Regions from separate parts of the Homo sapiens genome. Here region 1 is linked to region 2. Evidence: fine-mapped expression QTL. A gene starts in region 2. The other region holds a variant in brackets. All regions are shown on one strand. Distances are between the middles of the regions. Region 1 overlaps WDR38 (WD repeat domain 38). Region 2 holds the start of SCAI (suppressor of cancer cell invasion).

What was found. PIP is the estimated chance that this variant, and not a neighbour inherited with it, causes the effect.
Region 1: its variant is the best candidate, but not a certain one, in a credible set for the expression of SCAI in esophagus mucosa (GTEx, PIP 0.58).

Annotation. Positions count from the first base shown.
Region 1 is chr9:124,855,183-124,859,562 of GRCh38, reverse strand. It overlaps WDR38 (WD repeat domain 38), which reads right to left. Exons shown (of 9, transcript NM_001045476.3): 3 at 3,813-3,929; 4 at 3,605-3,702; 5 at 3,243-3,323; 6 at 2,963-3,094; 7 at 2,682-2,831; 8 at 2,152-2,199; 9 at 1,685-2,061. The coding sequence ends at 1,933. It overlaps RPL35 (ribosomal protein L35), which reads left to right. Exons shown (of 4, transcript NM_007209.4): 4 at 1,496-1,680. The coding sequence ends at 1,645. Among named protein-coding and RNA genes, the nearest start is that of WDR38, 3.9 kb to the right of the region's middle. RefSeq lists an enhancer at 1-95 and silencers at 736-1,018, 3,630-3,798. The variant T/C (reference allele first, on the strand shown) is at 1,701.
Region 2 is chr9:125,141,410-125,145,789 of GRCh38, reverse strand. It overlaps SCAI (suppressor of cancer cell invasion), which reads left to right and starts at 2,262. Exons shown (of 18, transcript NM_001144877.3): 1 at 2,262-2,405; 2 at 3,113-3,157. The coding sequence starts at 2,353. RefSeq lists a silencer at 2,144-2,643.

The DNA.
Region 1 (4,380 bases), 290 kb after region 2:
GCATAGGTGATTGTGGGGGCTGGCTGGGACTCAGGGCTCAGGTTGAAGCTGCTGTTCCCAGTGGGTACTTGGAGGGAGCCTCAGCCCTGTGCTTAAGACTTACAGCTGATTGGATCGGGCCTTCTGGGATTACCCAGGATAATCTCCCCTAAAGTTACCTGATGAGGGTCTTTAATTTCATCTGCAAAATGGTTCCACATCACTACCCAAATTGTGTTTGAATAACTTGAAGATTTGACACAAGGGAAAAGCAGCCATGGCTGATGAAGTGCCACAGGCCTATAACCCCAGCTACTGGGAGGCCGAGGCAGGAGGATGGCTTGAGCCCAGGAGTTAAAGTGTAGCCTGGGCAACATAGTGAGGCCTCATCTCAAAAAAATGAGAAGGGCCATAGTGTGGCTATGTTAGCTGTTCAGGGGACACTAGCACGTGTGTGGCAAAAGTAAACCTTTAATGTCAGCAGCTACGTGTGTGGCTAGTGGCTGCTCTGTTGGACAGCAGAACTCTAGGGGGTTAGCCAATGTGAAAAGGACGAATGCCCAGCCGATGCCAGCAGGAGTGAGGGATGTGGGAGGACAAAGACTTTCCTGCTTCCAAGTACCCTCCAGGGCTGGCCCTCATTGTCCAGGATCTTTCTGCAGTCCTCTGCCCACCTGCAGGGGCCTGGGGCCCTGTGACCTCAGAATCCCCCATACCATGGGCCACTTGTTACCTGTTCAGTCTTCCCCCACTAGGCTGGGACCCCTGAGCAGGGACTGGGTCAGATCCTTTGCCAAGCCAGCTCCCAGCACAGGGCCCAGTCCTGAAGGGGGCCCAGGGGACCTTTGCAGAACACAGGAGAGACCAGTGAGAGCTGCCATGGTCTAGAACCCCCTGCTGGAGAACAAGTGGGGCAGGAGTGGGAGCCAAGGATGGAAAGACAGATGATGGCTCTGTGACAGCTGTGGGCAGGGGCCCCAAAGCCGGAAGCAGGTGGGGCAAGTGGCCTTGGCCAGCCAGGCCTCTGAGGCTGGACGTTCATACAGGCAGCAGCTGGTGGGCCCTGCATACAGATGGACAGAGTACTGCCTCAGCCCCCAGCATGCTCTTGCTAACCAGAGCCGAGGTAATGGTAACTACCCCCGGGGCTTGGTGGGTGCTGCGTGCCCTGTACTAGGTTGTCATGTGACTGTCCTCGTGACTGGGAATCGGGCAGTGGAAGGAGCACTGAGTTGGGAGTCACTTGACTGAGATGCAAGCCCCGGCTCTTCCACAGCTTTGCCAAGACTTGGACACTCAGCCCAGTAGGTCAGCAGACTTACATGAAATGAGGATGGTCCCACCAGCCTTAGATTTGGGGGGATTAATTGAGTTAGTGACATGTGTGGCCTGCTGGCAGTCCCATGGTGGCAGCCTCCTCCTGAGTGGCTCTGGATGGCCCTCCCCAGCCCCCTTAGCTGCTGCAGTAGCTCCTCAGCCCTGGGTCCTTGGATTCACCCTGCCGTCTGTCTCCCAGGGCAAGAAGTACAAGCCCCTGGACCTGCGGCCTAAGAAGACACGTGCCATGCGCCGCCGGCTCAACAAGCACGAGGAGAACCTGAAGACCAAGAAGCAGCAGCGGAAGGAGCGGCTGTACCCGCTGCGGAAGTACGCGGTCAAGGCCTGAGGGGCGCATTGTCAATAAAGCACAGCTGGCTGAGACTGCTTTGTTTCCTGGCACT[T/C]CCACTGATTGGGTGGAGGTGGGTGGGTCTGGTTTTGGGGACCAGGTGTCTGATGGGTTCCAGCAAGCGTCCTGCCCACCACAGTTGTCTGCTCTGGTGGGGCCTGGAGAGTCCTGGCCATGGGGATCTGCTGGATGCCAGCACAGTCACTTTGCGTCTGTGGGGAGAAGCGGCATGCCTGTGCGCCACTGAGGGGAGCGGGTGAGGTCGGCACCATCTAAGGTGGTTGGTGTTAGGTTTGAGGGTCCCTGGGTGATTTGGACGTGCGGGATATTTGACGTCTAGTCTGATCGGCAGCTCCAGACACTAAGATTTTCCCATCTGGGGTGAAGGCACAGGTGTGGGCCACATCCAGGACTCCCTGCTAAGAGTAGAAGGTGGGGCTCGAGGCAAGTCCTGCCTTGGGAGAAGCTGTCCACAGCTTCCTCAGTGCCACAGCGCCGTGCCTTACCTTCAGGGTCTCAAGGCACTTTCCTGTGTTGCAGTCCCAGACTTTGACCTGGAAAAGGAGGGGGGCATGTCAGGAAGCCTCACCAGGCCACTGTGGCATCTGAAGCCACCTCCAGGAAAGTCCCAGACAAAATATGAGATGAGTCTTCGCCTGAACTCCTGACCTCAGGTGATTCACCTACCTCCACCTCCCAAAGTGCTGGGATTACAGGTGTGAGCCACCGCCCCCGGCCCAAAAAACATCTGAACCTCTTGGTGTAGGTTTTGTTTGGAGGCTGTATTTGAAATTTCAGAGCAGGAGTTCCCTTTTGCCTGATGCCATTTGGGTCATGGAAATGTCAATGCAACTACCAATGGGCCAGCCCTAACCTTGGTGCTGGCCATTAGGAAGAGAGGCTGGCACCCAGGTCCTGCCCTTGCCCCCTCCTAGCTAGGGCAAGTGGGGATGTGGGCATTTCTGGAGTGAGTGCTGAGGGCTCCTGGTGGGGTGAGGATGGGTAGGTAGGAGCAGGATGGGCCCGGGGTGGTTACCATGCGGGAATAGCCGGCGCTGGCCAGCCACAGCTCGTCGGGAGAGAAGGCTATGCTCTTCACCCAGGTGACATGGCCCTTCAGTTGGATAAGCAGGCTGCTGGTTGTGGGCTTCCAGATGTGGATGGTCTTGTCCCAGGAGCCGGATGCCTGGACAGCAGACAGCTCTGATCCCCAGGGTTTGGGGCCTGTGAGCTCACTGGGCCCCTAAGTGGCCTGGGACCCTTAAGGGCCTGGCTGCCAGCAAGGGACCAGCCTGGAACCCAGGACACCCCACTTACCAGGAGGCCGGATGCTGAATAGCACAGGCAGCTGATGTTGGCACTGTGTCCCTCTAGCGCCTGGTGGGAGACTGCTGGGGTCACCATCCGCAGGTCCCAGATGTGTACGGTGGAGTCCCAGGAGCCGGTGGCCTGCAGGCAGCTTCTGTGAGTCTGGCCCAGCCAGCTCTCCACCCACTCTGCATCTAGGCGGGACCCAGAGTCCATCCCCTTCCCACCACTCAGCTCCAAGTGGGTATGGGGCCACTGAGGTGGGGCCCAGGGCAGAGGGTAGGCTCACCAGGCAGTTCACCGTGGGTGAGAAGTCGCTGCTCTGGATGGAGTCACGGTGCCCAACTAAGAGGCGCAGCATCTGGCCGGACTAGAGAGAGCCCTGAGCTGCAGAAGGCAGCAGAGGGCAGCCGGCTACCTGGCCTTGACAGTCCAGGAAAGGGGGACCTCGTGCAAAAAGCCTGAGGGCTGCTGTGTGCAAGGAAGCCTGGAGAGGCGGCTGTGGCCAGGTGGGGGCAGCCTTGGTTGCCTGCTGTGGGCATGGGCCATGGGAACCAGTGGAGGGTTTGAGCTGGGAGGGCAAGACTGGTGACATCCTCTCTGGAACTGGTCCTTGAATCCCAGACTGGTGGCCCCAGCCCCTCAACGTACCTGCACATCCCAGAGCATCACCCGCTTGTCCCAGCCACCTGATGCCAGCTGTCTCGAGTCAGGGCTGAAGCTGACCGTCTCCACACTCCGTTGGTGACCTGCAGGCACCAGCCCGGGGTCGGGGAAGGTGGAAAGGTGACGTGACACAGGACACAGCACCATCTGAAAGGGAACGCTGGCCTGGCTGCTTGGCTCCCAGCTCACTCACCCTTCAGGACCCGCAGACACTTCGCTCTTGCCACATCCCACAGGCGGACAGTGCAGTCACAGGAGGCGCTGGCGAAGAGGTGGCCATCAGGGGAGAAGCGGCAGAACTTCACGGGGCCTGGGCGGGTGGCCACAGTCAGGGGACAGAGCACTGCCCGCCACTTCTGCCCACGCAGTCCAATCCTTGCTAATTTCTCCAGCCTCGTCGCCAGCCTCCCCTCACCCAAACTCCAGCTTCCCAGAAATGCCTGGATTTCCATGCCTTGGCCTGGGCTGGGCTGTCAGCCTTGGAGCACCCAACCTCAGTGCTCATCTGAAAAATCAATCCCCAAGTCAAAGTAGGGACCTCCCAGAAACTTGCCCTAACAACCGCTGCCTAGGTTCACTGCCTCCTTTGAGCTCCAGCCCCTGATTTTCCCTCCTTGCAGCATTAACCAGACTGCCTGTAATTGCCTGATATTTTTTCTTGTCTCCTGAATAATAATTACAATAGTTATATCTATTGAGTCCTTACTGTGTGCTAGGTACTTTGCTTGCATCGTGCCAGTGGAAATGGCTCAGCGAGGTGA
Region 2 (4,380 bases):
CCAAAGCACTGGGATTACAAGCATAAGCTACTGTGCCCAGCCCAAACTTCAAAAAAATTAATAAATCTTGTTCATCCTTCTCTAGAACTTTTCTCCCCCTAGATGAGGAAATAGGCTTAGAGAGGATAGGTGACTTGTCTAACGTTGCACAAGAGAGCTGGAACTTGAATCCCTAGAGGGCACACCAGAGTATTTCTTTAGCGCTCTATTTTAAGCAATATTGGTTATTGTAGTTGTGTGACCCTGAACAGATTGAATTTTCTGAATCTTAAGTTTCTGTGTCTAAAATAAGAGAATATCAGGCAGGGTTAATCTCACTATTAAAAATAGCACACACAAAGCACCCAGTATCTGGTCCAAAGCTGCCTTTTATTAAGGGCTCATACTCATAGGCCATTTGTTCAAATTCATTGTAGTTGGGAAGAATAATCCAAGGCAATGTATAATTGCTAACATAGTGTAGATTTTGTAAGTACAACACATCTGGACAAGGAAATGTTTGATGTAGGATGGAGTAATTGGGGAAGATAAAGAGGAAGTGTGAATTAAGTGTGGACTGGAATGATGGGATTTGTATGTCTTACAGAGTTAAAATAAGCAGAGATCACTTGGACACAATGTGAAGACTCGAGGATCCTTTTTGGGAAGGCGTAAGAAATGAATAGGTCCTGTTTTATTGACAATATCTGCCATATATCAGTGAGGATTGGTCAATTATGGAAGATGCTAAAAAGCAGGCAATGGATTTTTAATAAGGAATATAATAAATGTATTTCAAGATTACTTCCCTAGTGAGTTGATGATCCCCCTTCGTCTGACACAAATTATTCTCGAGTTCTTTCCTCTCTCTGGCTTGATAATATGGGTGGAAACTGTTAGTTGAGATTGAGGTGATTTGTGGTTCTGTGACTTTAGGATTACGTGAAATACTAATTTGGGGGACCAACAGAGATTTGACATTTTTTCAAAGCAATTTTTCAATTCCTACTACAATTTACCGTCAGTATTACTTCATAAATGGAAAGTCATTTTACCATTAAAGATGTAGGTAGGACCATCTCAGAAGAAAAGACAACTCTTTACACCAAATACATTTGGTTTTGTGAAAAACTAGTATCCTAATTTTTGCCGCTTATGGAGATCAATGAGAGATTTTCCCCACCCCAATGTTGACATGTACTACTCGACGCTGTCATATTATTGAGGCATAAAAGATGTTCTAATAAAATGGAAGTGACTTAAGAGAAAGTTTTATGCCTCCTCCCAACTCTGAACAGATGCTGAGAATATACCAAACAAGTTCACACAGGAGTAGAGATTTAGAGAGGCCTTCCCACCTTCAAGAATTTTATAATACGTTAATGAGCTGAGTCTTATTTTCAAGGATGGCTTTGTTAAAGCAGAAGAAGGGTAACTATGCTTATGAAAGGCAGTTTTGCATGCCTGTTTGTCAAAAAATACAGTACAATTTATTTTAAAATTGATTAATTGGTGTAGAACTTGCAATGGTCACACAATCAGGATGGTCAGCTTCCATTCAGGGATCAAATTTGTCCAGGCCTTTCAAAATGGAACACGTTGCTTTTAGTATGGCATTGGTTCTGTTTGTAGTGCTGATTTTTCTTTCATGGTAATTAAAAAAAAATCTTACTTTCTTAAAAGCCTGCACCCAAGCTAGTGAGCTTTTCTGCAGAGGATTGAGCATCCAAACCATGCTTTATTTTGGTGGATTCTTAGAGTTTTCTGGCTGGGTCCTTTTTGAGGGGTAGCTGTGAGCTGTGAGACAATTTCAGCAAGATGTAGGGACAAGGATCGCATTCGAGGTGGCTTAAAAGGAAACACGTTTGTGAGAGTTGCCTCACTGTCTCACCTGCTAGAAGAAATTGGGAGATTTCAGGGCTTGTTTTCGGTCCTGGCGTGGTGCAGAGGTGGAGGGGCGCCAGCAGGTGTGTGGTATGCAGGACGCAGAGCCAGGAGAACCTGGGGCAGGTGTCTGGAGCCGGGGGTGCAGTTCCTACTTTTAGACGCATGGTGGCGCTAGGGTCTCCTCCGGCCCTGCTAGCAATCTCTAAGGCACCTCCGCCGCCACCTGCAGTCTCAACCAAACCTCTGGGTGGGCAGCGCGGGATGTGACGGGCCGAGCGTCCAATCGACTGACAGATTTCCGTCCACACTACTGCTCTAGCCAATGGGAGCCGAGGAGAGGCGCGGAGGAGGCGGGCCCCGCGGCAAGCCTGGCAGAGGCGCGAGGCCCTCCTCCCGCCTCTCCGCCTACTCCAGCCTCCGCCGCCTCAGCTTCCCGAGCGAGCCCTGCGGCCGCCGGAGCAGCTCCCGCGGCGGAGCAGGAGCCGGATGGTCAGAGGAGCCCGGCAGCCCCAGCAGCCGCGGAGTCGCCTGGCCCCCAGGTGCGGGGGCTGGGTGGAGGCCGGGGTTGGGGATGGGGTGGGGGCCAGGGAGCGGGCCCAGGGGCAGCGGCTCGGGGCGGTGGAGCATTCGGGGCGCAGAGACCGGAGGGGCGGGGGGTGCAGGCTGGGGGGACCTTGGGGGCGCCTGCAGGCGGCGGCGCGGGCTGGGCGCGATCGCCTCCTCGAGGCCAGGTGAGAGGGGCGTGTGAGGGAAGGGGCGCCGAGGGGTGAGGCTGGCGGCGCGGGGCCGGGAGGGGCAAGGCGGGCGCGCCCCCGGAGGGGCCGTGGAATGCGGGGGTCGCCGGGCCCGGAGAGGCGGGGCGTGGAGGGGGCAGTGCACGGTCGGGAACGGGTGGGCACAGGAAAGGGGAGGCTAGGGGGGCTTGCGGGGGTGACGAGGCAGACAATGAGTAGGTGGAGGTGGGTGATTTTGGGGAGCTGGGCTGTGACGAGCAGGGGTCGAGGATGGGGTGAGGGACCAGGAAGGTTTGAGCTCAGGGGGAATTGGGGGAACGGTGAGTCCCAGGAATGCTAGGTCTTGGTAAATAGGGGAAACAGGGCATGAGGCGTTTGTAAGGTCAGATCTGGGCTTGGCGAGCCTGTGGTCCCAGAGGGTGGTCTATTTAGTTCTTGACTGGCACGGTAGCGCCGGGAGATGTTTTCTTGTATGTTACTTTTAGTTACCGTCTTATTTGTTTGGTCTGCAGACTGACTGGCACAGTGGAGAAACCGCCTCGAAAACGGAGAAGCAGGTAAGGCAGTGCCTTCCTATTTTGCTTCATGTTTTTCTTTTTGCTTGGCTGCACCTGTGCCGTACTGCATAATTGTATACTGTCAGTAGATGAAGTTTCTTATTTATCCCCCTTTTAAAAGAATATAACCACATGCATGATTTTTCTTTTGAGGACTTCAAATTACTACCTCTACAGTCGATTTTTTTTTTCTTGGTATCTAAGATAATGTGGGAAATCTTGAGAAATCCTACTTTTTTACTTTTTGATGTTGTGTAAGGATCTCAGCTATTTTTTTTTTTAACCTTAGCCATAATTTCATTTTCTCCAGCATCTCTGTTTAAAAAGCTCATCTTGGCTGGGGTGGCTCATGCCTTCAATCCCAGCTCTTTGGGAGGCTGAGGCAGGAGGATCATTTGAGCCTGGGAGTTCAAGACCAGTCTGGGCAACAGAGCAAGACTCCGTCTCTACAAAAAATTGAAAAACTAGCCGGTCCCATAAATATATACACCTACTATGTACCCACAAAAACAAAAAATTAAAAAAACAAAAACCAACTAGCTGAGCGGGTGTTGTGGACCTGTAGTCCCAGCTTCTCAAGAGGCTGAGGTGGGAGGATTGCTTGAGCCCAGGAAGTCAAGGCTGCAGTGATGCAGTGAGCCGTGATCATGCCACTGCACTCCAGTGTGGGGAACACAGCAAGACCCTGCCTCAAAAAATAAACTAATTTTATTGAGCATCTACTATGTGCCAAGTACTGTGTACGAATGCTCTATGTGTATCTTCTCCTGTAATCCTCAAAGAACCCTAAGAGAATATGTAGTGTCACTATTTTACAGAAGAGGGAACTGCGACACAGAGAGGCCAAATATTTACCCAAAATCATGCATCTAGTAAAAGATAAAACCAGGATTTGAATCCAGACAGTCTGACTCCAGAGCTTAAGCTCTTAACTGTTATACCATAATGCTGCTAATAAATATGCAATTGAAAGTAGGTTTTCTTATTGCTTTATCTTTTGTCGTTGGACACTGTGTAGTTAACTCGAATGGTTGAACCTTAGGAAAATAGAAGCAAAGAGTTTAAGTAGTCCACAAACAAAGTGAATTAGTCCTTGAGTAATGGAGATGAAGATATATTTATCACATAAACATTTTTGACTGCATTCCATGTGAGAGGTACTACATAGCAATTCTGTGTAGTCATTAGATGATTCCTTTTTCACAGATGTTGGCATTGACCTA